5 separate regions of the Homo sapiens genome follow, and regions 1, 3, 4 and 5 are each linked to region 2. The links come from fine-mapping of genetic effects on gene expression. Tissue or cell type: blood mononuclear cells. Region 2 holds a variant in brackets; each other region holds the start of a gene. Each region is shown on its reference strand, or each on the opposite one. Region 1 holds the start of MMRN1 (multimerin 1). Region 2 has its middle 14 kb from the start of ARHGEF3. Region 3 holds the start of H2AC6 (H2A clustered histone 6). Region 4 holds the start of ITGB3 (integrin subunit beta 3). Region 5 holds the start of H3C10 (H3 clustered histone 10).

Region 1 (5,451 bases), not on the chromosome of region 2:
TGACTTTGTATTATTACATGTAAAAACTATTTGTAAGTTTAGTTTTGCAATACTAAACTTCTAGTATTCCAAACATACAGATGACTCTGAGCATTAAATGAATAAAATATTGACCCACCCAGATATTTTTTCTTTGTTTATTTTGATTTGACTATCACTTCTTTTGAAAACCCTCTTTAACAACACTCCTTTAAATTTGTTTTATTTTATTTCAACCACTCAAATTGCTCTAACTTTAAATTAAAATTAATTTGAAAAATAAGTTTTCTGATTCATCATATTCATGATGGCAACACAACTCAAAATAATCATGGTACTAGCAAAATTTGAGTTGTTGAGCACCTATTCTGTGAGGAGCATGCATCTAAGCACTTTTCATTCATTTTTATCTGAACGAGAACCCTGCAAAGTTTTATTTTTATTGACATTCCTTGTATTAAATCTGTAGTTTCCATATGAAGAAACTGAGGTTCACAGACATCAACTGAGTTGCTCAAAATCATGGAACTAGACCATACTGAAGCCAGGATTGCACCCCTGGTGTGCTTGTTTCGATCTTTGACAACTGTTACTTTTTATAATACTGCTATTCCAATTTTCACATCTGTTCAAGCCCCAATTTTATTTATTTGTTTATTTTTGTCTTTCATATTGTGAATATGGTTGGGAACACAATCAACATATCCTTGAATTAAACTAACAGCCACCGTGGTGCTAGTTTGCTTGGCAATGACTATTCTAAGTAAAACTACCTCTATAAGTGAGTAGAAAAGTGAATGATTATTTCAGTTAAAACAAAATTGCTGCATTTTATTTCTTCATTTTTCCCTATTAGATAAATTAACAATAACTTTATCTAACTGAAATGGTGAAATTATAAATATGATCCAATTTCATCTTGAATTTGAAATAATTTTCTGGGAGTGAGGTAAATTTCACTTGCAATCTTCTAGACCTGATAGACAGAGAAAGAACAAAAAGAAAAGAAGATTTCTTACTTTCCTCTAGTTGTTTCGAAATTTGATTTTTGGTAGTCAGTTCTTTGGCTGGAACTGCTGTCACCCCGGCTGAGGTATGTTTCCCGTGGGGCTCGATTTCCCACGCCTCCAGTGCCTCCAACGCCTCCAATGCCTCCAGTGCCTCCAACTGTGTTTAGAGAAGTTGCTTGTTCATTTGACTTTCTGGCAAAGCTCTGAAGAAATTTCAGTGTAGAATTGGAAAGGACCACTGATTCTGCTCCAGGATTGAACTTGATGCTAGCGTTGGTTGGGAGGGTAAGATTCTGTAACTTGACCACTCCTTCTGCTTTCTCTGTGGATGTGAGAGTTTGATTTCTCACACCCTCAGCAGGTGCACTTGTTTCTGAGGGAGGCAGTGTTGATTTAAGAAGACTGTCTTCAGAAGTTCTTGCCTCTGGAGTTGTAGCTATCTCCGCCGACATGACCCGAGTGGTTGGCAGTATTTGCAAACTTTGTATTTTATTTGGAGGAACTGAAGCAGAAGGCATAGTCTTCTGAGAGTTCCCATCCTCAGGTATAGTCCAAGAATGCTTACTGTTGTTAAGCCCAATGCCCCCACTCCATAAACTAGAAAGAAGGACAAATAATCTTGCCCCCTTCATCTCAGTAGTTTGAAGCAAGGTAGCTCATGTGAAATTTGGGGACAAAATCCTTATGGCCTTTTTGATAGCTGCTTCCACACTGAATCTGCTAAGACTGAGTTTTGCCAGTTTGAGATGTGTAGAGGAAACAGGTTTCTGTGTTTTGTAGCGTACTCAGGAAGTTCGGTTTCCTGTTTCTGTAGGGTTTTTGTGATCTGTGACCTCTAGTGGGATGGCTCTATGGAAGTGCTGAAGGGTCTCTGACAAAGCTAAGGGTAAATGGGAAAGCACAGGCAATTATTATCAGGAAAACCCATGAAAAAATATGAAGTAACTTTCTTTTCCTGAGCACACCCTGGTTTCACGTTTCACTGATTTCAAAGAGAAATTTCAGGTTCACGATAGAGAGTGCAAAATTTTGTTGATATAGGCTGAATACAGTTTTAACATTTTGTTCTACTACATAAAGACACTGAGAAAAGTTTTTATGATACTTATCTGCTGTGCTCTATCCAGAAAGCTGCATTTTGTTCAAGTGTATATCCACATGCATACACATAATCAAAAGCTTGTTTACAGTGTCTCTATCCTTTCATATAGTACATATACTCTGAATTATAAAACATCTATCTACATACATGTATATCTTTCTATTTTTATAAATACACTTCAGCTGTATCATTACTTAATCTCAATGATTATAAGTAATAACAGAAAAGGAAAGCATAAGTAATTGAATTAGACAGGTATACCAGGAAGTCACTTTAAATTTTGCTCCTGGAACTTCTACCAGAGATACCCACTAATGGAATAAATAATCAGAATTTTACTTCCTTTATTTTCCAATCACGATTGTCTGATGGTTGGGGGTAACCAATATTTTACTAGTAAGGGATAGATGAAGAAAAAATGGAGTCACATAAAAATAAATTAAAATGGGATCATATAGAATGCTTTTATACATTTACTGTAGGACAAAATTATGCCAGTTGTAGGTAGCAGAGAACCAGATTTATCTGAGTTTTCTATGGGTTTTTTTCTGGTAGAGATGTTTCATGAGATTTATCATTTAATTTCTCCAGCAAATCTCTGATCCTCAGATTTCAATTAACCTCTTATCTATAAAATTTCATATCAGTCTGTTTAAATAGATATACAAACTAAGTTATAATAGTTCATTCATTCATTCACTCATTCATTTATTTATGTATTCATGAATTCAGTAGTTACATAACCCCTCATTCTGTGCAAAGCACTCTCTTATGTGCTAGGATTATAAGGAAAACAAAAATATTCTTTGCTGTCAATTTGCTAAATGTCTGTTATGTTATTTGGAAGCTAAATCCATGTGTAACCCATTTTTCTGTCAACTTCTGTGCCAGGCATTATGCTCTTGCTAAATATTCAGTCATTGATTGTTAAACTATTATTAGATTTTATTTTTTGTTATTAGATTATTAAGTTCCGTCTTTCAAAATTAGAGAATTGGAAATCTAATGCCTGCTTGGTTATGTTTTATTGTAGATATTTTCTCTAGTCCTTATTCCTGGACACAGTGCACCAGGATTTGAAATAAGGCCTAATTCTTCCTTGAGCTACTAACTACTTGGGATTAATATTTTTTTCTTCCCTCAATCTTTGCCATTTATTTCCGTAAGTGTATTGTTGACCTACTAGAGAGTATTTATTTAAACTAAGACAATCATCAGCAACCCCAATCGACTCTGATATGGAGTAAAAAGCATCCGTTTCTCAGATATACCACAGAACAATCCACAAACCTTGCCTTAGTAAAGGAGCAAAAAGGTCCAGCAGAGACAATCCAGGAAACGATTAGTTACTAAAAAGAGCAAAAGAGCAATGAAACTGCACAACTGTCACAATACAAACATGGTTTTCAGTAGAAAGAAAAAGGCTTTACAGTGTCTTTATCTGGAAAACACAGAAGAAACTAGCTTTGGCTTATGGAAGAGCAGTAATTTCATAAAATTTAGGAAAAATGTTCCTATTTATATTCAATTTTACACCAATTTTCCTAGCTTTAGTAAAAATAGATGAATGGACTGTCTTGAAGATTTACAAAACTGCCAAAATAATGACATTCACTGATTTTTTGTTTTCTTCTACAGTTTGAAAGACTGTTCAAACCTGGTCTGGCAAGTGAACTTTAGTGGTAAAATGTCACCCATTGGATCTATAACTGATAACAAATAGTTATCCAATGATAATAAAAACTGAACAAAGCTAAGCAATTCATTTAACCACTTATAAGGTATTGACCAATAATGACTTTTGCTCACCCCTATCCTAGCTTACAAGGGACCCTGAAATCAAAAGGCTAAAGGTTCTGTATCTCACTATTGATCTACTAAGCCATCTTGCACTTTAACTCCCCAGAGAATCTCAAGCTCATTTAGTGATTTTGGGTATATGGATCAGCCCTTAATTAGAGGTATAAAATACTCCAGAAATTGTCAGAGACCTTGTCTCAAATTCTTCTTTCTGAGACTAATTAATACTCATTAAATAACAATTAAGAAAAATAATATTGCTGAGATGACTGGCTGAAGAGTACTCAGTTTACTCATTCTTCTAGATACTATTATACTAGATACTAGATACTAAAATACTATTGTTGGATTAAACTATATCATCAGTTTTGTATAACTGGACCCTGTCATTTTGCTATACCTCCCATTTCCCACTTGGTTGTTCATATTAAATTATGTTTTACCATCTTGCCATTTGTTCACCATGAATATTTTATAAGATAAAAATCATGAAATTTATTATATTATGAGTTATCAGGAGATTTTTATGTCATTTTTCATTGTATCATAAACATAGGATTCACTATATACTGCAACATGGGTTGTCTGTAGGTGATGAGATAATGGGTTTGGTTCTTTTCCACCTTATAATGCATATGAATTAATTTTCTAACCACAAGAAAAAAAAACAAAAAAAGATTATTAAGTTAAAAGAAAATATAAATGTGAGTTAAAAGAGAATCTTAGATTGAGGAGTTCACTGTAGATGGTGCTGTGTACTATTCAAAGCATTTTTATAGCTGCAAGACTTATTCTTTGTAAAATGTTGGGGGTATGGGCTAACTTCCACCAGATTAATAGGATTTTTCAGCAGCTGTTTTCTTCATTTTTCACATGAGAAATTCCTATTTTCTTAAAATAGTTTAAAACATCCAAAATATGATTTCATTATTACCTTCCTCCATAAGACATATCTGTCAAAAAATAATAGAAGAAAACAAATTTTAGAGCTTTTTCAATTTAATGGTGTTTGAAAAATATTGAAAACCTGTCAAATTTACATGTGGACAAAGGGGGTTATCAACATACAGCAAAAGGGCTGGAGAAGAAGAGAAACTGATTTCTGCATGATTTTGATGAGTCGATGTGCTAGGTAAGTTAAATTTGGCATATTATTTAATTCTTACAAACATGTTAGGTAAGTATTCTATTCTTGTTATACTCATGGGAAGTTAAACTTAAAGAAGTTAAATAACTTCCTAGGGTAACACATTAGTAATTGTTAGAACAGATATTTATGCCCAATCCTGATTCAATAGGTATTCGGTAAATATTTGTTGAATCAGTGAACGAATAGATGAAGCTATGACCATACTCCTATGTATAGTGATAACAAATGGGTTGAAGAGGGCTCTATTTCACATTATTATAGCCACACAAAAGAAAAAAAAAGTAATCTAAATAAATATAATGAACTTGTTCCGGGAACACACCTTCAAAAGTCTTCTGAAATACCCATTCAGTCAGATTGCCTCCTGTAAGTTACTCCTAAAGAAAATTCAGAAAGCCCATTGTTTCTAT
Region 2 (6,609 bases):
CAAGCAGAATTCTTTATCAGCCAGACAGTTCACCTTTGTTCATATTCCAAGCGCGTAGGATGGCAGCAGGGGGTGCAGGGGGAGGTTTACCTGTGGTTATCCTGCTGAAAGAGGTATGCTCATTCTCACGAAAAAGAATTGATCTTGAGACTGAAAATGGCTTATGGCAGGGTGGGTGGCTGAGAACAAAAGCAATTGTTAGCATTTTTGAGATATTCATACATCTTGAGCAGCAGCTCAACTTCTATCAGTTTGATCCAGGTCTTTTTTCCTTTGAATTCAGTTCTATCAGCATCTATAGAGTGCTTGCTGTATGCAATACTAGTCATTTCAAGAGGAGGAATTTAGCTTCCTTTCCCATTATCTCCACCAGCCCCCTCACTCCAGAAGCACCTCAAATAAGCTTACCAGCTAAGCATGTACACTGTAGTCGCTGTGCAAACATAGCTTTGAGATGGCCACCCTGCCACCTCCCACATGACTCCCTGAAGTCCTTTTCTTCTTTGTCCTCTCCTGTCACATAAAATTCAGAATTTTCAGGAGAATTTCAGAATTTTCAGTAGAGTTTCAGAATTTTCAAGATAGAAGGGAACTGAGGGTCACCCAGTTCTGTTTGGTAACAAATGTGTTCCACTTCTTCCCCTAGCCAGAGTCCCAGGACAGAGGGTTAGCTCATTATGTCTTTGGCTCCTCTTTTATCCCTAACCTCTCGGGTATAAAATGTAAGTGATTAATGTTCCACAAGACTTGGACTGAAAAACTTTAATCCAGTACATTCTGTTTGATCAAAACAGGGTCCAGGAAAGTTAAATGACTTGTCCATAGCTGCCACAGTCTGTGGGTAAACAGGGACCAAAACCCAAGGCCACTTGATCCCCCATGCGTGGCCTTCCTATAAAGCCACTTGCCCATGGTGTGGACATGATTGCCCTGTGGGTACGGGGCATGCTGGGGCCAATGACACGCTATCTTTGGGGAAGGGTGTAGCTTTGTGGTTAAGACCATCAACGTTCTGGCAGACTAAGTAAGTTCTGGCATGGCTATTTAGTAGCTGTGTGATCTTGAGCAAGTTACTTATCTTCTCTGAGCCTCCATGCCCTCATTTATACAACAGGGCAGTACCCTCTTCAGCAGGTTGTGAGGATTCAGTAAGGTAATATATGTCACATGCTTGTCACAGGTCTGGCATAAGGCAAATGGCACCTAACATTATTTTCTAGCTTTTCAGCACTCAGGTGTGAACTTCCCAAGTCATAATGGTTCTTTCTGTTCCAGCTGAAGTTAACTCAAACCTGTCTTTATTACTCCATTTGTTGAAAGAGAATCTGATATGGAACTTTTTGCTTGGATGATGTGCCACACATGTAGTCTACTGTTAGAAATTGTTTAAAAATCTGAGTTTCAGAGCTGTCTTTCCAACTGGTTGGTTGGTTCCTGGGTTTTGAAGAGATTCGTTCCTCCTCCAGACTTATCTCCTCGCTCTGTTTGGGACCATAATAAACCTAGCTACTGTTTATGAAATTATTACTATGTGGTAGCCCCTTAACCAGGTTTCTCTCTAATCTTCACCTCCACCCTTTGAAGTAGGTGCTATTTGGTCCTGATTGCAGATGAGGAAACTGAAGTTCTGAGAGACTGAGTAACTTGCTTGATGGTTGATATTTTGGTGGTTCTCCCTCGTGGAAGGTGGAAGAGCACACTGTGCTCTGTAGTTTTCTGGATGTGAGATTATGTCTAGGGTGACTCTAGCACTTGGGGTTGACACCTGACAAGGACTTGAGTGAGCATCCAACCCCCTGATTGATCAGCAGGGGAAGCTGGTGAGCAAAAACGTCACAGGACTGGACCCAAGTCAGCACTGCTTCTCATTCAGTGTTCTTTCAGTCATATCATATAGGCTCAAATCCTTGACCCTTGCATCATAGGCTCTGGCCTCAGGACTCCCTGGTTTGTGACTGGCCTGTGAATTAACGTTCCGCTTCAGAATTGGAACTTGAGGTTCTAGAAGCAAGGTGCTTGCATTTGAACTCCAGCTCTGCTGCTTACTAGCTGTGTGACTTTGGGCAAGTTGCTTGAACTCTCTGTGCCTCAGTTTCTCCTACTATAGAAGTACTCATTTCATAGGATTGTTGTAAGGATTACTTGAGATACTTCATTAAAGTCAAAGCACAGTGCCTGGCAGAGAGCAAACACCTCTTCGGCTCTCAGCATCATTTACTGAGCTCTCATCACTTGCCAGGCATCTTTTGGCAATGGGGATGTAGCCTTGTACAAGCGATTCATGATTCTTTTGGAGCGTACAATCTAGTAGGGGAAACAGATGCTAGAGAATAATGAAGATTATGATTTATTAAGTAATTCTAGTGCTATTTGTTATTTATGGGGCACTATTTAGAAGTTGCTGCAAGGTATCTTTGTTTTTAGTTCTAATTCTTATAAATGGACAACATTAATGTAAGTAAGTATTTTGGGTAAGAAGTTTGGCCAGGGTTGCACAGAACCCTCAGCTTTGAGAAGCCTGTGGTTTAGCATCTCATGCCAGCAACCATCTAGATGTGTATTTTTGTTTTGTTTTTTAGAGACAGAGTCTTGCTCTGTCACTCAGGCTGGAGTGTAGTGGTACAATCATAGCTCACTGTAACCTCCAACTCCTGGGCTCAAGCCATCCTCTTGCCTCAGCTTCTAAAGTAGTTAGGACTATAGGAATGCACCATCATGCCCTCCTAAATTTTTACATTTTGTGTACAGACAGGATCTCACTATGTTGGTCAGCCTGGTCTTGAGTTTCTGGCCTCAAGTGATCCTCTTGCCTCAGCTTCCCAAAGTACTGGGATTATAGACATCAGCCACCAAGCCCAGTCAGTCATCTGTGTTATATCCAGAACAGAATTAGGTATGGCCCTACCACTTAGATGCAAGCAGCCCACCCTTGAAGGGCAGAAGGGAAGCTGTGACTGGGCAGAATCCACAAGGCAGCAAGACTTGGTCCACTGAAGGAACAGATAGCTCTCATAGTCATAACAGGCCTGTAGGAAGAAGACAGTGTAGGAACCAAATGCTGTTGTAAAGAT[A/G]ACACAGGCACTATGTAACCGAGTACCTATTTTTAAGTGACAGTGGTATATTTTAGGCCAGTTCTATCCCATTTGTAGTCTGTCTCCATTTTCCCTCAGTAATTCTTTTCTCATAGTTGATCTTTCCTCTGTTTCAACCTCTTGTTTGCTTTGCCATTTGATATTAAAAGAATCTATATGCATATGCATTTCTTGACAAATGAGTACATTGAGCTTAATTTTCTGATGAGCCTTCATAAAATATTACCATGCTGAACCAACCCAAAATGTGGGCTGCCTATACCAAACATGCTAATTTTAGACAGGGTGCTTTCATCAGTACATAAGATATGAATTTTTATTTGAAAGCTTTCCTGAAATTAAATAGCATAAAATCAAGATAATACTCCATATACACTTCAGTCTTTGCTGTTTAATAGAATCACAGAAGCATACACATTTATGTTTAAATCACCTTGTTATATGGTTCAAGAATCTATGTCTCAGAGAGATCACTTGACTTGCCCAAGACCACAGACTTAATGGTAGGGCCAGATTGTATACCATGTCTTCTTTTTTTTTTTTTTTTAATTTTTTTAGAGGTGGGGTCTCGCTCTGTTGCCCAAGCTGGAATGCAGTGGCACGATCATAGCTCACTGCAGCCTCAAACTCTTAGGCTCAAGCAATCACCCTGCCTCAGCCTCCTGAGTAGCTGTCACCATAGGCATATGCCACTGTGCCTGGCTAATTGTTATAATAATAATTGTTATTATTATTGTAGAGATGAGGTCTTACTTTGTGGCCCAGGCTAGTCTCAGACTCCTGGGCTCTAGTGATCCTCCCACCTTGGCCTCCCAAAGTGTTGGGATTATAGGTGTAAGCCACTGCACCTGGCCCATGTCTTCTAATTTAGGTCAGTTCACTCTTCACTCTGCTGCTTCTTTTATATATGTGCAACAGTCATATCCTTTTTTGAAATTATAAGATTAAATCAAAGAATTAATGTCTTTGGAAGCAAGGAGTGTTGGAAAAGTTCTCCAAATTCCACCTTTTTTCCTTAATTCATTTAAAAAAAAAGGGAGAAGGATGATTTATTTACCGGAAGGGTTAATAATAGCATGACGTGCTAACTGTATGCTTAGAAATCTGACATACATATTATCTTATTGGATTATTCATGTGTTTTTAACTCATTAAAACCTTGAAACTCTCATATCCCCATTTTATAGATGCTTAAACTGATGTTTGTCATCATTAAGTAAACTGTCCAAAGTCATATAGTTGGCAAGTGAAAACTTGGTATTTGAACCCAGGCTTCTCATTCTAAAGCAGAGGTGTCCAATCTTTTGGCTTCCGTGGGCCACAGTGGAAGAAGAATTGTCTTGGGCCACACATAAAATACACTAACACTAACAATAGCTGATGAGCTTAAAAAAAATCGCAAAAAAAAGTCTCATAACGTTTTACGAAAGTTTACAAATTTATGTTGGGCCACATTCAAAGCCATCCTGGGATGCATGCAGCCTGTGGGCCATGGGTTGGAAAAGCTTGTTCTAGAGCTTGTATTCTATGTTCTTCCAGAAAGAAGGACAGAGTGTTGAGTATTCCACAAAGAAAATTTTGCTGTAAAGGCAGAGTGGGAGGGAAATATCTTATTCTTTTTCAGTTTACTAGCTCTTCACTTTATAATTTAACCTTCCATATTAAAAGCTTCTCTAGGAAGTGAGAATTAATTTGGGGGAAGGAAGCCTCAATTATTCCTGCTTCCAGCTGGTACAGATGCTTGGCCACTTCAGGACAGGTAGGAGGGAGAATGTTGGCATCTGTCTACTGAGCTCAGAAACTGGAGAAGCATCTAAATTCAGGAATGATGCCAGGTGGGGTGGGGGTGTGGGAGGGAGGAAAAGGATGTGGTGTTTGGGGCCCATAACTCAGGAAACGTGATGGCACCTAATTTCAGAGTGGCATGAGGCAAGCATTTAGGAAAAGAATAGTGAACTATTGTTACAGGTTTTTTTTAAATGGGTGGGTTGTTTTTATAAAGTTTTATGAACAGGAAACTGAAGCAAAATGCTGATCCTTTTAGTTTTTGAGCTCTGCCAGCATCATTTTTATATTTATTTTTGAATTTTGATGACAGGCACTTCCTTTAACACTTCTGGGAGTAAAGTGTAACAAGATACCCCAAACTGCATTTCATAACAGCAGAATCCAAATGAAGAGTTGTAGTTTCAGATCTTTTCGATAACACGGTGAGACAGAACTGGATCCCTCCCCAGCCAGGGGAGAAAGAGAACTCTTTCAGTAACTGAGGCAGTCTGCAGAATTTTTTCCCTTTCAAAACATTCTAGAAAATTTGCCTAACATGTGGAAAACCTCTAACATGCATTAAAATGGGATAGACTGTGGCAAAGAAAATACAGATCAAATTCTCCTCCTCCCATGAATCATAAAAACCCAGCCTTCCCAGCTATTGTTTCTCCTGGAAGATGACTTCATCTTAAAGAAAGTGGTTCTATCTGTTGTGTGTTTTGGATGCACTAAACCAATGTTTCAGGCATCTGGCTGCCAACTTTGGAGATGTTAAAAGCCTGTTTTGTTCCTGCAGGGCACTCTTTCATTGCCTACCTTATAAAAGTTATGTCTTATTGCATTTTCCTGGCACCAGAGCAATCCTTGTACCTACCCATTGCATTTGGTTTTTCTGAGCCTGCAGGCAGCACTGGGTTATTAAAGTTCAAGGAGGAATCCACATGATGTTGGCTTTACAATTTTAATTCTCTCTTACCTTCTTTCCTCCCTACCTCCCACTCAATGACAGATGAGCTTTGTTCACCATGTATTGTCTCTAAACCAGAATGAGCTCTCAAAATTATCTCTTGTAAGGCTCTAGGAGGGGAGAACATGACTCCCCTTTGGTGGAGCAGCTAGCAGAGAAGTTTCCTTCTTCCTTTGGCTTCTTTGAATAAAAAGTTCTTGAGTCTATAATTTATCATCAGCCTTGAACTTCAGATAAGCACCATGTTTAATCTTGCAGAAACATCAGGCAAAATCTGCCCCCTCCCTTAAAAGTCAGCCCCTTGGGGCCCACCTCAAGAAAACAGAGTTTTGATACAAATGGCATTAGGTGTGAGCATGGCAAGTTAAGAGGAAAAAAACATTTTTGTAGAGTTTAACCTGGAATCAAAAACCTAGAGAAGGGAATGAAAGAAATAACCTTTAAAGGGAAGGAAAAGGGCAGATGAGCATGTTGCACAGTGTCTTTGAAAATAAGCTATTTGATGTCCCTTTGTCACTAGTTTCAGCCTTCCTGGCAAGTCCACCTTGTTCAGGAATTAGTGTGTAAACAGCTGGAAGGAACTGAAAGCTCTATCATATCTGAGAGGCCCCCACAGTCTAACACTGTAGGAGCCGTTTCTCAAAGTGGTTTGGACTCTTCAAGAAGCTAAACATTAAAATTAGGGGCCTATTTGAATTACCTTTCAAAATTTCAAACAGCCCACTATAGTATTCTGCATATTATTTTTTGGTCCCATCTCAGAAGTTTTAAATATGGTGT
Region 3 (6,609 bases), not on the chromosome of region 2:
CTCCTTTTCTCACTCACCACAATAAGTCAGTTGCACCAAGTCTTGTAGCTCTTTACTGAGCCATGTTTTCACGTGTCCCTTTGTTTTATTTGCCACACCCTAAATAAAAATTGTACTGGCTTTTTTTCCCTGGGTTTACAGTATTAATACATTGTCAAGATTTACCTCTTCGTGTAGATTCCCTGGGGAAAATTACCTTTCCTCCTTCCCTTAAATTCTTCAGAGGTTAGAAAGCCATTAGTAACATTCTGGTATGTGGACAAAGTTTACCCATTATGTATGGATGTTTTACTCTTTCTATTTTTCTGACAATAATCTCTTAAGGAGGTGTGGTTATAGAATAGTCAGCTGTTATAAGTACTGTTTTCCTGGCCTTACAACTTAAGTTCTTTAAGCTGTTTCTTAGTTTGCTCATCTCAAAATTCGGAATAAGGATAAAACCTATCTCTTAGATTGTTGGATTAAATGAATTAACATACTGGAAGCTCATGAAATGTGCCTGGCACACAGTAGTGCCTAATAAACCATCTCTCTTATTCAGCCTGTTTTCTGATTTCAGAATCTACACTTGCTGAGCCAGGTTCTTTTCATTTCAAGGTGAGCAAAAGCATACAAGGAAGAGATGGAGGTAGGAAGAGATTAAGCCCTAGGCCAAGGTCACACACCGATTGGGAGCTGGAATCAAAGGCAATTTGGTCAGTGAATAAAAAGGATTCCAAGGCCCATAAGGCAATTCTAACCTTAGGATCGAAATTCTCGGACATACAGGAAATGCTGGGGGGGGAAAATCCGGTCTTCTCAGCCCAAGAGCCATGTGAAACCAGACCTTCAAATCTGATGATTCTCAGCCCAGCTGCCCATTAGAATCGTTGTAATTTAAAAATACCCTCGGAAAATTCTAATATGTGGCTATCAAAGGTGATCATTTGCTTTTATGCCACTTTGTTTTCACCCAAATGGGACATCCAACCCTTTTCCTTTGAGAGTAGTTGTAGGGAAAGGAGGGGGTGGAGGGAGGGAAGAGCGGAAAAGGCTGGATCCGCCCTGAGCCGGTGTCAGTATCTGGGAAGTGGGAGGCGCGTCAGCAGTAAACAGCTTCTGCTAGGATTATTATCTCCTGCCACACACTCGGATTTGAAGGCTCCAAACGAAACAATGCAAAACGCTTCAGTGGAGTTCCAGAAGCGTTAGACTAAACGACTGGGTCTGTTTGGCCAGTCTGAGCAGCTGGGCGCAGATGCATAGGCAAGACTTAGCCCGCCTAGACTTTTCTGCCCACTTAATTCCGATCAAAGCAGAAACCGGCCGGGCGCGGTGGCTCACGCCTGTAATCCCAGCACTTTGGTAGGCAGAGGCTGGCGGATCACCTGAGGTCAGGAGTTCGAGACCAGCCCGGCTAACCTGGTGAAACTCCGTTTCTACTGGTGGCGGGCGCTTGTAATCCCATCTACTAGGGAGGCTGAGGCCGGAGAGTCGTCTGAACCCGGGAGGCGGAGTTTGTATGCAGTGAGCCGAGATCGCGCCACTGCATTCCAGCTTGGGCAACAGGAGCAAAACTCCGTTTCAAAAAAGCAAGCAAACAAACAAAAAAATGCAGAAACCGAGATCCGGAAGAAAACCTCGGCGAGATTCACAGAATCCAGGAAAATAGGTCTCTAGAAATTTGTCCATGGTCCCAGATCTCCATTTCTTGTGGGTGGGGCAGCTGTTACCAGATCCCTAGAAGCAAAGGTTTTTTTGGGGGACCGTGTCTCACTGTTGCCCAGGCTGGAGGGCAGTGGCACGATCTCGGCTTACTACAACCTCCGCCTCCCAGGCTCAAGCGACTCTCCTGCGTCAGCTTCAAGAGTAGCTGGGATTACAAGGTATGTGCCACCACGCCCAACTTATTTTTTTATTTATTATTTTTATTTAGTAGAGAGGTGTTTCACCATGTTGGCCAGGTTAGTGTCGAAGTCGTGACCTCAGGTGATCAGCCCCCTCGGCCTCCCAAAGTGGTAGGATTAGAGGGGTGAGCAGAAAGCAAAGGTTTTTGAGTGGCCACAGGCCCCACTCTATTTCCTTTTCTGCCTGTAATGGCAACCTAGACGCTTGAGCTTCTTAAAATACAAGAGTAAGTTGCATGTCAGGCACCGTTCTACATTAGGGACATTAGTCTGTTTTACAGACACCTTTCAACTCCCTGGTTAACTTTTAGGTAATATACTCTGCACTTTAGCAGGAATGGGACCTATAACTCTCACAGAATTAGGAAAGTGAGGCTGCCTACAGCCTAAATTGAGAAAAAAATAGACGGGGGACTAGTCGGAGGACCAAACAAGGTTACCAACACGTTAGAGTTTTGCCTTCAATTTACATTTTTAAAGTAATCACAACGAAGTGTTTAGATCACGAGGCATCCCTGCATGTAAACTGTTAGGCACTAACTATGGTCGATCTTACAAAGCATTAACTAGAATATTTCTTTAGAGTATGATAGTACGTAACTGACCTACTATTACATACAAACAGACCAACCTTTAGTAACAGCGCTCCCCAAAAACCGAAAAGCAGTAATACGCTTTGCTCAAGGTTGGCATAAAATTAACTTACCTTAGTGCCTTTTTTCCTTCTACCTACAAGCAGTGAGGTTAGCTCTTCCTTTGAAACGGTAGGGGGGCTCTGAAAAGAGCCTTTGGGTTTGATAGCGTTTCCGGGAGCTCAGATACCTGTCAAATCACTTGCCCTTGGCCTTGTGGTGACTCTCGGTCTTCTTAGGCAGAAGCACGGCCTGGATGTTAGGAAGGACGCCGCCCTGAGCAATGGTCACCCGGCCTAGCAGTTTGTTGAGCTCCTCGTCGTTGCGGATGGCCAGCTGCAAGTGGCGCGGGATGATGCGAGTCTTCTTGTTGTCGCGAGCCGCGTTGCCGGCCAGCTCCAGGATCTCGGCGGTCAGGTACTCTAACACCGCCGCCAGGTACACCGGCGCGCCTGCCCCAACCCGCTCTGCGTAGTTGCCTTTACGGAGCAGGCGGTGCACTCGGCCCACCGGGAACTGGAGACCAGCGCGAGAAGAGCGGGATTTCGCTTTGGCGCGAGCTTTGCCTCCTTGCTTACCACGTCCAGACATTGCAATCAGACAAAAATCACCAAAACCAGCGGCCTAAGCTCACGAGAAAACAAACAAAATCAAGAAATATGTAAAACATGGCCGCTTTTATAGGTAGTTCCTGGGGAGTAAATCCGACTTTTTGATTGGTCGGTAGCAAATGCTAGTCAGATAGCCAATAGAAAAGCTGTACTTTCATACCTCATTTGCATAGCTCTGCCCACGGATGACAACTGTGCAGTTTGTCTTCCAATTAACTAAGAGGTACTCTCCATCCCTCATTAGCATAAAAGCCCTATAAGTAGCAGAAATCCGCTCTTTACTTTCGACACATTTCTGGTGTTTTAAGATGCCTGAGCCAGCCAAGTCTGCTCCCGCCCCGAAGAAGGGCTCCAAGAAGGCAGTGACCAAAGCGCAGAAGAAAGATGGCAAGAAGCGCAAGCGCAGCCGCAAGGAGAGTTACTCTGTGTACGTGTACAAGGTGCTGAAACAGGTCCATCCCGACACTGGCATCTCTTCCAAGGCCATGGGCATCATGAATTCTTTCGTTAACGACATATTTGAGCGCATCGCGGGCGAGGCTTCCCGCCTGGCGCATTACAACAAGCGCTCGACCATCACCTCCAGGGAGATCCAGACGGCCGTGCGCCTGCTGCTTCCCGGAGAGCTGGCCAAGCACGCCGTGTCGGAGGGCACCAAGGCCGTCACCAAGTACACCAGCTCCAAGTAAACATTCCAAGTAAGCGTCTTAACACCTAACCCCAAAGGCTCTTTTAAGAGCCACCCAGATACCCACTAAAAGAGCTGTGGCCAGACGCCAAATTTTATTTGGCGGCGGAGGGGTATTAGAATATAGGAACTGGAGAGGGGTGGGGACAAGTGTTGCAGCTTAGAGAGGGACAAAGGGTCCTGAACCCGAAAGAAGCCAGCCATTAAAAATGGCTTTGGGGTCAATTCGTTGTGCTTAAATTTAAAATGGAGACAAGCGGCCATTTTGCTAACTCGGCGTTCCCGGAAGAAACCGCAGGCTCGCTTAGGTTTCAGACCCAGCTGTCTGTCCCTGTCTACGTCGCCAGGATCAACGGTTGCCGTAATGTCATAATTTCGCCACCAGCTTCTAGCCAATAGGCTGTCCTGTCATTTTAAATATTAACCAATCGAGGGAAAGCTGTTTTGAGACTCTGATTTACATAGCGGACCGGAGTGGGAACCTGGGCAGTAACTGCCTAAGGAAGGACTCCCCCTCTGTTTTCGTGGCGCACACCTTCGTAGTATACTGAAGGGTGTGTCTCCTGGGTTTCCAACTGCCCCGGTAATAGTCTTTTAACCTAATATGCGTCAGTTTTGATAACAACACTAAGGCAGTACAGAACTAAAGATGTAAGCACTGCGCCAGATGTTGCTTCATACATCTTATTCTATTCAACTGGTTTATTCAAGATTCAAATCAAATCAAATTTTGCTTGAATCCCAGTGCTCAGTCAGCCATAAATGGTGTGTTGCCTGATTGAAACTTAAAATCTCCGTAGGGGGCTTGTAACATGCAGACAAGTTTGAAAGTTGCTTTAGGAGAAGCCAACTCTTAACTGCTGGGTAAATTGACAAGCCTTCGAACACTGAACTGAAGGCCAGTAAGGACTAGGCGCTGGGTGGGGGAGAATGAAGAGGAGACGTCATTAAACTTAGCACATACACTGTATCTCCTAGAGGACTCTCCCTTCCTAGACAACTGCAGGCCGCTTTGTGGCCTGGGAAATTCCACATTCCCTTAAGTATTTTACTCATGGTCTTTTCCAGGTAAAGATTTTAAGATGAAGGGTTAGACGTAGTCTACCTATCTTTTTATTCAAGTCTAGAACACGTTTTTAGCACCTAGAAGTTTGCTTTCTCCATTAAAAACCGGGAATATACAATAAATAAAATTAGTGTTAAAGCAGATTTTTACAAACTTAAATACCATGTAATTTAGGTTACAGTTATTTAACATAAGGACTGTGTGATCTTAAATCTGCAATTTCTTTCACACCTGGGAAATAAACTAAGGCCTGTCTTTGGTGCCAGACAAGGCCTTATACTTGAACACTGCTGTGCAATCACAGGCTGCCTTGCCTAGATAACTTATCTGAGAAATTCTGATGAGAAATGAAATTTCCAGAGTCCCTCACAAGTAAATTTTTTTTTCTTTTTTTTTTTTTTTTTTGAGACGAAGTTTCTCTCTTGTTTCCCAGGCTGGAGTGCAATGGCGCGATCTTGGCTCACAGCAACCTCCGCCTCCCGGGTTCAAGCCATTCTCCTGCCTCAGCCTCCGGAGTAGCTGGGATTACAGGCATGCGCCACGACACCCTGGCTAATTTTGTATTTTTAGTAGAGACGAGGTTTCTCCATGTCGGTCAGGCTGGTCTCGAACTCCGGACATCAGGTGATCTGCCCGCCTTGGCCTCCCAAAGTCCTGGATTACAGGCTTGAGCCACCGCGCCGGGCCTAAATGGTTTTTTTTTTTTCTATGCCTCTAATGGACCTGGTCACTTATTCCCATTCAGACTGACCGCTCTCCTACCTGCCAACTAACTAATCAGTGTAACCAAAATCTGCAAACAAAATTCAGTATTCTTTCCCCGCCTTTTCCCCTTTCTCTTACATAGATTATGTTTTTGCCTGTGTTAGATGAAATAATTCTATTGCTTGTTCTCTCTTCTGTACAAGTACCCAGTAAGCAAATTATTAACTTCTTGGTCATTTATTTCTGAATTTTCCACCAAGACAGTGTTTATGTGAGTCATACAATAAGAACCAACAGAAATGTGTGTCTTGGAAACAGGTTGTCTATCCCTGGACCCTTTGAGTTTTCTGTTCACTTTCCTTTGGCTTTTGCATGCTAAAAGTTTATCGTCCGCGTTTGTTTGTTTTGGTTATTCTAATTGGACTTGGCTGATTGGTTGCATATTGGTGGCAGTAGTAGAATTTGAATTCTGGTTTTCTGGTCACATCATTAAGTGATTAGTCAGTGGAGAGGACAGGAAATCTGGTTTATTTATTAACCTTTTTTTGGGGTGTTTTTGTTTGAAGATGTTGATATTCTCTGTGAGGACACAGGGTTAGAGTTGGTGTTTTTCTTTCTGACTTTACATGGGATTTGATGTTTTGTGCTTGTATGCCTCTTTCCACCTTCCAAAACTTGTCTTTTTTGAGTCCAAATAGTTGTCGATATCTGCAAAACCAGTATTCCTGTGTTAAGATGATATGAATATAAAATGGCTGCCCTGTTATAACTTTTGACTTTAAGAAAGTGTTAGGACTAACAGGAGACAAAAAGGAAATCAAGGAAACCGAATGTCTGGTCTCAATAACTGCTATGGCAGAGGCTCTACAGCTTATTATTAATTTTAGTAATTTCACATTATTGCCCCTTCACGTTCTTTAAGTAAGGTTAGAGGACAGAAGAAACATAATGTTGTTACAAATTGGACTATTGAGTCAGGGAAAAAAAAGAGTGCTTTCAATATCTGAATAAAACAAAGATT
Region 4 (4,132 bases), not on the chromosome of region 2:
ACCCAAGGCTCCACATGTCCCAGGGCAGAATGCTGGAGATTCTTATTTCTGTGTCATAGTCATCAGACTGCTCACTGCACGCTAACACTATCAGCTGATCTGTTTTAGTCCCAGTCACATAGGAAATGCAGCAATAACCACTGCAATATTCCTCTACATATCAACTGTAATCCCTCCTTCAAGATACCCTTGGCCGGGTGCGGTGGCTCACGCCTGTAATCCCAGCACTTTGGGAGGCCAAGGCAGGCTGATCACGGGGTCAAGAGATCGAGATCATCCTGGCCAACATGGGGAAATCCCGTCTCTACTAAAAATACAAAAATTAGTAGGGCGTGGTGGTGCGTGCCTGTAATCCCAGCTACTCGGGAGGCTGAGGCAGGAGAATCCCTTGAACCCGGGAAGCGGAGGTTGCAGTGAGCTGAAATCGCGCCACTGCACTCTAGCCTGGCGACAGCGAGAGTCCATCTCAAAACAAACAAACAAACAAAAAAAGATATCCTTGCCCTGTCCAGAATGAGTTATACGTCTATACATACACAGAAGAGTCTTGACGGGAATCACTAAAGTATTTTCGAATAGTTTATCTTTGAAGTGAATTTATCAACAAATCTTCCCTTTTTAAAATAAATCCTGGCCAGGTGCGGTGGCTCACGCCTGTATTCCCAGCACTTTGGGAGGCTGAGGTGGGCGGATCACTTGAGGCCAGGAGCTCCAGACCAGCCTGGCCAACATGGTGAAACCGCGTCTCTACTAAAAATACAAAAATTAGCCGGCCGTGGTGGCAGGCGCCTGTAATCCCAGCTACTCGGGAGGCTGAGCCAGAAGAATCGCTTAAACCCAGGAGGCAGAAGTTGCAGTGAGCCGAGAACCCACCACTGCACTCCAGCCTGGGCGACAGAGCAAGACTCCGTCTCAAAAATAAATAAATAAATAAATAAATAATAAAATAAAATAACAAATCCCTTCTGCAGGGTGTAGATTGTTTTACGAGTACTACAGTTTTTATTAAAAATACTTACATGCACTCTTGTGTCATCCTCTGAGGCAGAGGCGGCCCCAGCAGACCAGGAGCCAGGGTTTCTCTCCAGCCCAGGCAAAATCACCAAGGACTCAGAGAGGACCACGGGCAGCAACCCCGGGCTGTGCCCGCTCCATCCCTCCACCTGTGTCCCCAGTACCAAAGAGGCCGAATGCCAATTGCCCTGACGGCTGACGGTGTGCGCAGCAGCCAGAGACAAAGCCAAGGATCCCACCGGCCCAAGGGAGCCTTTTCATGGCTCCCCGAATACACTAGAGATTTTTCGGGTGCAGGGTCTGCCCTGGGAGCAGAGGCACCGCTGCCACCTGGGGACACTGGAGGAGGCAAAGCCCTCATCCTGCTCCAAAACAACCCCGCAGGAAGCCAAGTTGAAGGTAAAAAAAAGAAAGAAAGAAAGAAAAAAGGAAAAGAAAAAACCTTCTGGAGAAAGCGTAACAGGAGAAATTGGAAATGTGGGGAAACTGGCAAACCCGCGCGCGCGCACGCTCTCACCCAGGAAGCTACAGCGGCATCCCTCTGCCAAGGCGCGGGAACAACCCCCGGAAGCCCCACCTCGCCTTGGCTCCTGGGCCAGTCGTCCTTGGCCCGACCAGGACCACCCGCGACGCGCGCAGCCCCGGGTGAGCGCGGGGCTCAGAGATGCGCCCACCGCACCGTGCGCGCCGCGGCGGCCGGGAAGGCGCTCAGCCTGGCTGATGGCTTCGGCGTCTCGGAGGACCCGCTCCCAGGCACCAGGCACCTCTCAGCCCCGCCACCGCCGGGCCAGGAAGGTCCCCAGCTCCCGGCTCCGACCGCGCCAGCCAGGACACGCGCATTCCCAGCGCAGACGCGCGGGACCAGCCCTCCGCGTTTGCCGGCTCCAAGTCCGCAACTTGACCGGGGCGCAGATCCTGGGGCAGCTGCGACGCTGCCGAGCCGGAGCCTCACTCACCTCCTACGCCAACGCCCGCCAGCGCCCCCAGCGCCAGCACAGTCGCCCAGAGCGGCCGGGGCCGCGGCCGCGCTCGCATCTCGTCCGCCTCCCGCGGCGCTCCGCCCGCCCCACAGTGGGCGCCGCCGCCCGCGGCCGCTTTTCCCGCAGCGGGAGGGGAGGGGAGGGGACGCGGTGGGTGGGACGCAACGGGGCGGGCCGCGGACTCGCGCTTCCTCCCCTCCGGCTTCTCTAGATCCCCTCGCGCTTCTCTAGACCCTGCGCCTGAGAGGGAGCGGTGGGAAACTATTGCTCCTCTCTCGCCGCCTCCCTCGCCTCGCCCACGAGGACCCGCCTGCCAGCCGGGTCGTCAGCGCATCCTGGTCCCGGGGGTCCGCGACTGGGCACTTGGTGTGCTTAGAAAGGCCAGGAGCCTGTGGCCCCTCTCCGGACCCTTCCAGTCCCGCCTCCTGGGAGACCCTGTTTCGCTGGATTCTTGGGACACATTCACCCACTACCTCGAGTTTCATTCATTCACACTTTAATTCATTTGACTGGCAAACATCTGCTGAATGCCTTCTCTGAACCGGTTCAGTCCTTTATTATTCACTAATTTTTTTCTTGCCTTAGTTTGGTTTTCCGGTAGACTACCTACCTGTTGAGGGCAAGACCACATCCCAAGCTTGCGTAAGCAGTGATAGGTCCATGAAGAGCCTCGCCCTACAAACACTTGCTTGCACCTAGCCAGTGTCTGAAAACGTTTCAGAACACAGCATATTGCCTCCAAATTCACACTCACAGGCTTTGGGACTTTATCTATTTTCCTCAAAGGCCTCCTGCCTGACTCCCCCAAACTGTGGCCCCTTATCTCCCACCCCAATCTTTCTTTGAGTCCCTGGGTCTTCCCCAGACTTAAAACCTCTGGAAGCTCAGAGAGGCAAAATACTATGGCTATGAGCAAGAGGGCACCAGGAAGTAGCTGGTAGTGCAGCCTGCCTCAATGGGTAGTCCTGATGGTGATAAAAACAAGGCCAGAGGCATCAGTTCCCCTTTAGGGCTTTCAGAGTGGCCCTGGGCTTCCCTACGCAGCGTGCCCACCCTCTTCTGAGACACACAAGATGCCAGACAACTGGCCCTGACCCATCTCTCCAGCCCATCTCCCACCCTAGTCCAAGAAGATACTTGTCATTCCCCAATGCTCCATGCCTTCCTATCTGACTGATTTTCCTTCCTTTTTCCACTTGGAAAATTCCACTTATCTTTCAAAACATCTCAGATGCCATCTTTTTCCATGTAATTTTTTTCTGACAATCCTCCACCTCCTGCCCCACCCTCCCAAACACTAGGACCTTAATAGTAACACACATCAGCTGAAGCGTCACTAGCAATTTGCAAGGGGAAAAGCCAGCTCTGCAAAGGGTACTTGGGCCCTCTGACCTGGGTTTTCAGGCTGAAGCTCCATCTACCTCCCCTGGCTGCAGAGGGCCTCTAGGCCAGAAGCATTTTAACAGCAGTGTCAATGCCCTGGAGCAAAGTTCAGGTCACATGGCCTGGTTACATCTCTGCCTAAGTATTTAGTTATCTGCTCCATTCCCATATATATAAAACCAATCTCCAGCCACTTAGGTGTCTCCTTAGCCTATCCCTGCTGTCAGCAACCACTTGGGGTGGGCACTGGCCTCAGCAAGTATGCTAAGTCCACAACCCTAGCCCAAGCCCTAGCAAACATGACATAATTGTGCAAGTGAGTCCATCCTGCACTCCCAGCCCCAGGGAAGGCAAAGGAGCTAGTCCATTCACATTTAGTATAGTAATTGATGGTTGTGTTTACATTTACTATCTTGTTATTCGTTCTATCTTTTTGGCTGGTTTCTCTGTTTCTCTTTTTCTGCTTTCTTTTGGGATAATTTTTTTTTCTCTACTGGCTTCCTAGCTACACCTCGTTTGCATGTGTGTGTGTGTGTGTGTGTGTGTGTGTGTGTGTTTGCTCTAGGTATTACAATATTCCTCCTTAACTTATCATACAGTAGCCTATGTTGAATTAATATTGAACAATTCTATGTAAATTGTAAGAACCTGTAAACTAAAAATAACATTATAAGCCCCCCCACAACTGTCTGAACTAACCCTTCCTCTCAGCCAAGGGCATTCCAAAGTTAATCTGAAAAACTAGTTCAGACCAT
Region 5 (6,609 bases), not on the chromosome of region 2:
GAAAAGCCAAAGGCTATTTTGAGAATAGTGAGGTCAGTTCCTCATGTTATCTTTTTTTTTTTTTTTTTTTTTTTTTGAGACAGGGTCTCGCTTTGTCACCCAGGCTGGAGGACAGTGGTACGATCTCGGCTCATTGCAACCTCCAACTTCTGGACACAAGCGATTCTCCCAACGCAGCCTCCTGAGTATCTGGGACCACAGGCACACGCCACCACGTTTGGCTAATTTTATTTTTTGGAGAGATGGGGTTTCGCCACATTGCCCAGGCTGGTTTCCAACTCCTGGACTCAAGCGATCCACCTGCCTCGGCCTCCCAAAGTGCTTGGATTACAGGCATGAGCCACCGCGCCCGGCCTGTTGTCCATATTTCTGTATGGGCATATCAAGGTCCTTTTATTTTGGGCCTTGAAAAGGATTGTTATGCCACTTATGAGTTTTGCCATCTCAGGAAATTCAGACACAAGAATTATGTCCTTTTTTTTAAATTTATTTATTTTTTGTTTGTTTTGTGTTTTTGAGATGGAATCTCCCTCTGTTGCCCAGGCTGAACTGCAGTGGCGTGATCTCGGCTCACAGCAACCTCCACCTCCCGAGTTCAAGCGATTCTCCTGCCTCAGCCACCAGAGTAGCTGGGACTACAGGCACATGCCACCACACCTGGCTAAATTTTTTGTATTTTTAGTAAAGACGGGGTTTTACCATGTTGGTCAGGCTGGTCATGAACTCCTGACAAATGAGCTGAGTTGGATGGTTACCAGACTATTGTAATTCAGTACATGGAGTGTTTTGAAAAGACATAGAGTATTCATTTCCACATAACTAGAACTACTCACTGTCCCTTAAATAAATAATTCCTCATGTAATTATAACTGGAAATTTAACTGGGAGTATCTTGGCTGCATATCTCCAGGAGAGGATGCCCTACCCAGCCAGCAAGAGTATTGATTAGTACATACCAGGCAGTCTCTGTGTGAGCCCTTCCTGATTTATTACTAGCTCTTAGTTTCCCAGCACAGAAAGAAGGAATGCACTATTTACACACTCAACAATATCCATCGGTTTAGCAGTTGGGCCCCTAAGTGTCCTAGAGGCACTGCTTCCCTCCAAAATAGTGTATCTTCCTTTCCAGAAGAAAGCTAATTTCTGAGAGGGGAAAAACTCTATTTTGTTTTGCTTACGGTGTTGATTCCAATTAAAAGTATTAAAGCATTATTTTAATTTGTAAAATATTAATCATAAATTATTTATCTTTCTAAATTCCATATATGTGGAAATAATGAAATCATGAACCCACACACAAGAAAATGAGGATGAGCAGATTGTGAATGTTGCAGTAGTGATCTTGATATCAAATTTCCAAAAAAGTGTATTAAGAATGTAACCAATTCTAATAACTGAAGATACATAAATAGCCAACTGAAACAAGATAGAGAATTAAAACTGCTTTTTAAAACTCAGTGTAAAAATACTATGATCTTTCCACTTACATCCTTCACAGGTTAAGCTAAGGAGAGACAGAGATGATAACACACATACACAAGCCAATTTGCCAGGGAAAATCTTGAATACTTATAAGAATGCTAGAGAGCTCACAGAAGAAGTTATAGAAATCTAGCATTCTGAATACAAGAATGGATGAGGTAAGGGCTTTCCTGGCCCACAAGAAGCTGATTTGAGCATATCTACCAAGCTGATGTATTTCTTTCATTTGAGATTTTCCATGTGGGTATGTCTCCTTACTATTATATACCCATGCATTCATTCATTTATCCAACAAATACTGATCAAAAGCTCCTACGTTACTGGAGATATGCGAGTAAACAAAAGTTCCTCCTCTCATGAGCCTGTATTTTAGAACACACAAGCAATACATCAGCAAACTCTGGTACAGCATATAGTGACAAATTCTAGGGTGAAAAAAATAGGTGGGGATTATACAGATTTTATTTAGTCATACAAAGCCTCATTGAGAAAGTAACATTTAAGCAAAGACTCAAGTATTTTATCCTGTGCTCAAAAAAACTACCACAGGCTTACCTACAAGGCAGTCTTATTTTGAATACTCCTGACAGTTCAGAGTTTTAGCCACTGTCAGCAGAAGTCAGAGAAAACACTTTCTCTCCCACACGTATTTTTACATGGGGCTTCAAAGGGAATGTTCTCTGGCGGGCTTTCTCCAGAAGACTTTTAAACCTCAAACCATCTGTCATTAACTACATTTAAGTGGTTTAAGCAGGCCCAAAATCCGGCTTGAAAAAATTCAAAGAAAACTTAACACTGCTTAGGAACGGGGGGCGGGGAGAGAACGTTTCACTTTAGCCAGCATGAGCTACATTAACCTGAATTTTTCCAACTTCAGTACAACCTTAGTTTTATTTCTGGCGTGTTGGCAAGAAATATACACACACCACAGTACAGGTTAGCAGAAAATTAGAAGCACCATCCGGTCAAAACCGGGCTGCGGAGATGGGAGAGCAATACACGAAGGAACTTTTGGCTACACTCAATGCTTACGGAAAAATGCCGGACATTATTAGATGTTAAGACTCCCAAAATTAGCATTCAAAAAGGGATAGGCTGAGTCTTACGAAACAGATTGTATAACGTCTGGAAATGGGCCCTATCTACTACAGGCAAAACAAGTACCAGGAAGAATTCCTGAGAGAAACAGATCTTTTCAGCGCGCATGTGGGTGGCTCTGAAAAGAGCCTTTGGGTATGTAATCAGTGAGTCCTTGAGACTCAAGCCCTCTCGCCGCGGATACGACGTGCGAGCTGGATGTCCTTGGGCATGATAGTCACCCGCTTGGCGTGGATGGCGCACAGGTTGGTGTCCTCAAAGAGCCCCACCAGGTAGGCCTCGCATGCCTCTTGCAGCGCCATCACCGCGGAGCTCTGGAAGCGCAAGTCGGTCTTGAAGTCCTGCGCGATCTCACGCACCAGACGCTGAAAAGGCAGCTTTCTGATCAGCAGCTCGGTGGACTTCTGGTAGCGGCGAATCTCGCGGAGAGCCACTGTACCAGGCCGATAGCGATGGGGCTTCTTGACACCGCCGGTGGCCGGAGCGCTCTTCCGAGCCGCCTTGGTGGCCAGCTGCTTGCGCGGAGCCTTGCCGCCGGTGGACTTGCGAGCAGTCTGCTTCGTACGCGCCATGCCTTCAGAGCTAGATTCACTTCAGGAGAAAGAGAAAGCTAGCCGCTTATTTATAGTGAGAGTCTGAAGCTGATTGGACAAAAGTATGCTGAAGGCCTACCCAACAGTAACCGGATTGGCGAAGGACTCAAATTTTTGTTGTTCACCTATTCCTCTGACAGACTTAGCAGTTCATGGTCTCCATATTTTATTTTCTATTTTCGCTATACAGTTGTTCACTATACTAGCGATTTCCAGTGGAAATGAGAGCAATATAAGTAATTTACACTTATCTAGGAGAACATTGTAACAAAACAAGGAAAAATTAATTTTTAATATTTTGCTTAATCCAATATAGCCAACATATTTCAATGTTATCGAAATTAAAATTGTTAGGTATTTTACACTTTTTGGCACTGACTTTTCCAAATGCAATGTGTATTTTATATAAAATTCATGCTATGGAATTTCCAATGATCACTATCCACAATTGGCTAGTGGCTGCAATACTGGACAGGACAGCCTTATACACCTGTCCCCTCAATTTTCTATCTTTTGACCACTTAAATTTAAAAAACTTCTATTTTTATAACCAAGAAAAGCTGGTTCGCATGTGAGAAATTCAAGGCCAAAAAATGTCAAAGAAACAACTTTATGTGAACTTTTCACTTTTAGATTAAAGTAATTCCATTGCAGCTTATTTTTCCAATACTCTAGAAATGTAATTCATTTTCTTTTAAGAATCTATTCCATTCGTACATCCAGATCTGATTCAGATTAAAAACATCAAGTCAGATATTTTAAAAGTGGAATTTACCATGCTGAAACAAATTAAGTCATCTCTGTACTAAGAAATCAATTTGTGTGGCTGGGGGTGGGAAAGCTCGGGAAATTTTAATTTCAATGAATTTTCAGAAAATGCTTCAAAGAGAACTACCTGGCACCATAAGTAACTGTTCTAATTAGTCTAATAATTATTCTCAACTCAATCATTAATGTTCAAATGCAATTAATTATACAGATTCGAGAGATATTTCTCAGAAATGAAGAATCCAAGTCGTTGATCTAGATTTGGATTGAACGTCGAATGCCCGGTTTGTTATTTACCAAGACCCAGAAAACATCTGGCCCCAAAGCAGACATGTTTGCTTCAACAGACTAAAAGTAAAACCCGACGGTGAACCATACAGAATTCAACATACTTGGATAATGCCAGCTTAGGAAAAACTAAATTTTCTTCCACTAAGCTTAAGATGAAGGCGTGTTTAATACTTTTAATGTTATCCAGGCTTTTTATAAAGCTAACGAGATTGTCACTACCTAACCAAGACACCGAAGACTGATCTACGTAACCTTTGGAGTGGTTTAGAAGTAGGCAAAGACGAGAAATTACATTAAACATAGTGCTCAGTTCTTCCACAAAATTGTAGGTGGCTCTGAAAAGAGCCTTTGGTTCCTTTGGGATTGAGTTGCTGCAAACTAATCCAGGCTTCTACTTGCCCTTCGCCTTGTGGTGGCTCTCGGTCTTCTTGGGCAGTAGCACGGCCTGGATGTTGGGCAGGACGCCACCCTGTGCGATGGTGACTTTGCCCAGAAGCTTGTTGAGCTCCTCATCGTTGCGGATGGCCAGCTGGAGGTGACGCGGGATGATGCGAGTCTTCTTGTTGTCGCGGGCCGCGTTGCCAGCCAGCTCCAGGATCTCGGCGGTCAGGTACTCCAGCACCGCCGCCAGGTACACCGGCGCTCCAGCACCGACCCGCTCCGCATAGTTGCCTTTGCGGAGCAGGCGATGCACTCGGCCTACGGGAAACTGAAGCCCGGCCCGAGAAGAGCGGGTCTTGGCCTTGGCGCGAGCTTTGCCTCCCTGCTTGCCACGCCCAGACATGGCAAAAGGCCTATTATCTATACGGTCAAGAAAGACTGAAGTGAAACTAGAAAAACGTACATTTTATAGCCTCTACTGGGCGCGAAAAGGAAGCTGTGCGATTGGCTTACGTTTTATTTTTATTTAGACCAATAGGACTCGATTATGCAGGATACCTATTTTGATTGGGCAAAACTGGCATCTGTCGTCATCCACGGATAATTACCAATCAGCAGAGACCTTCCCACTACCTCGGCCGCATAAACTATTATATAAAAAGAGGAGACCGACTTCTTGTTTTGGTTTTGCCACTATTGTTTCATTATGCCCGAGCTGGCCAAGTCTGCTCCCGCCCCGAAGAAGGGCTCCAAGAAGGCGGTGACCAAGGCCCAGAAGAAGGATGGCAAGAAGCGCAAGCGCAGCCGCAAGGAGAGCTACTCCGTGTACGTGTACAAGGTGCTGAAGCAGGTCCACCCCGACACCGGCATCTCTTCTAAGGCCATGGGAATCATGAACTCCTTCGTCAACGACATCTTCGAGCGCATCGCAAGCGAGGCTTCCCGCCTGGCGCACTACAACAAGCGCTCGACCATCACCTCCAGGGAGATCCAGACCGCCGTGCGCCTGCTGCTTCCGGGGGAGCTGGCCAAGCACGCGGTGTCGGAGGGCACCAAGGCCGTCACCAAGTACACCAGCTCCAAGTAAATTCTCAAGCTCTTGTCCAACCCAAAGGCTCTTTTCAGAGCCACTCACTATTATCTAAAGAAGAGCTGGTTCGCTCTTCCTATCACTGGGGGGCGAGGGGTCATAAATCATTTTGATCTATCCACTAAATTAATCTAGCTCTTTGAAAGCCATTTAAGGTGAAATGTACATGAGGTACGTGCATATAGCTACCAACACCATAGAGGGTCCGACCTTTGCGCTTGAGGGCATAAACTAAGTCCTTAGCAGGGACTGCTTTGCGCTTTGCTCGTTCCGTGTAAGTCAGTCAAGCGCATCCGGGATCACGTTATCCGGAAATTCCTTGAGCATCCACGGGTTTCTAAAAAGATGAGACCAGAATGCGTTTGACACCGCCAGGCCAGGCTCCAGGTGGTGGGTCTGGTGATGTCTGGATGTTGCACAGCAACTTGCGGTGGCGCCCCCTTTACCCAATCCTTTCCCTCACTTGCGCAACCAGACATGATTTTAAGGCACGACAAAAGACCCGAGGTAAAAACCAAAAACAGCACTAGGAAAACAAGGCTGGCGTTTTTAATCTTTCCGACTAAACTGGAAACTAGAGGGGTGGGCGCGGTGGCTCATGCCTGTAATCCCAGCACTTTGGGAGGTGGAGGCGGGCGGATCCCTTGAGCCCAGGAGTTCGCAACCAGCCTGGGCAACATAGCAAAACCCCGTCTCTGCAAAAAGCACAAAAATTAGCCAGGAGTGGTGGCGCGCCCCTGTTGTCCCAGCTACTTAGGGGGCTGATGTAGGAGGATGGCTTGAGCCTGGTAGGCGGAGTTTACAGTGAGCTGAGATCGCACCACTGCACTCCAGCCTGGGTGATAAAGCCAGGCCTTGTCTCAAAAAAAAAAGTGGGAGATCAGTAAAAGTTAACACCTTGCCTTC

Evidence for each region. PIP is the estimated chance that this variant, and not a neighbour inherited with it, causes the effect.
Region 1: MMRN1 starts here. The variant in region 2 is fine-mapped to the expression of MMRN1 in blood mononuclear cells (TOPMed, PIP above 0.99).
Region 3: it holds the start of H2AC6, and the variant in region 2 is fine-mapped to the expression of H2AC6 in blood mononuclear cells (TOPMed, PIP above 0.99).
Region 4: it holds the start of ITGB3, and the variant in region 2 is fine-mapped to the expression of ITGB3 in blood mononuclear cells (TOPMed, PIP above 0.99).
Region 5: H3C10 starts here. The variant in region 2 is fine-mapped to the expression of H3C10 in blood mononuclear cells (TOPMed, PIP above 0.99).

Annotation. Positions count from the first base shown.
Region 1 is chr4:89,891,142-89,896,592 of GRCh38, reverse strand. MMRN1 (multimerin 1) reads right to left here and starts at 1,739. Exons shown (of 8, transcript NM_007351.3): 1 at 999-1,739. The coding sequence starts at 1,621.
Region 2 is chr3:56,812,184-56,818,792 of GRCh38, reverse strand. It overlaps a transcript of ARHGEF3 not described here. Among named protein-coding and RNA genes, the nearest start is that of ARHGEF3, 14 kb to the right of the region's middle. The variant A/G (reference allele first, on the strand shown) is at 3,072.
Region 3 is chr6:26,120,733-26,127,341 of GRCh38, reverse strand. H2AC6 (H2A clustered histone 6) reads right to left here and starts at 3,170. Exons shown (of 1, transcript NM_003512.4): 1 at 2,652-3,170. The coding sequence starts at 3,109. The coding sequence ends at 2,717. H2BC4 (H2B clustered histone 4) reads left to right here and starts at 3,416. Exons shown (of 1, transcript NM_003526.3): 1 at 3,416-3,875. The coding sequence starts at 3,438. The coding sequence ends at 3,818. RefSeq lists enhancers at 1,964-2,053, 2,794-3,003, 3,094-3,233, 2,568-3,253, 2,061-3,260 and 5 more and a silencer at 3,267-3,632.
Region 4 is chr17:47,251,779-47,255,910 of GRCh38, reverse strand. It overlaps ITGB3 (integrin subunit beta 3), which reads right to left and starts at 2,084. Exons shown (of 15, transcript NM_000212.3): 1 at 1,971-2,084. The coding sequence starts at 2,049. RefSeq lists a silencer at 2,030-2,289.
Region 5 is chr6:27,806,617-27,813,225 of GRCh38, reverse strand. It overlaps H3C10 (H3 clustered histone 10), which reads right to left and starts at 3,175. Exons shown (of 1, transcript NM_003536.3): 1 at 2,690-3,175. The coding sequence starts at 3,152. The coding sequence ends at 2,742. H2AC13 (H2A clustered histone 13) reads right to left here and starts at 5,053. Exons shown (of 1, transcript NM_003509.3): 1 at 4,559-5,053. The coding sequence starts at 5,016. The coding sequence ends at 4,624. It overlaps H2BC13 (H2B clustered histone 13), which reads left to right and starts at 5,297. Exons shown (of 1, transcript NM_003519.4): 1 at 5,297-5,747. The coding sequence starts at 5,320. The coding sequence ends at 5,700. It also overlaps the pseudogene H4C10P. RefSeq lists enhancers at 2,166-2,837, 2,932-3,221, 2,838-3,509, 4,193-4,791, 4,710-4,909 and 4 more.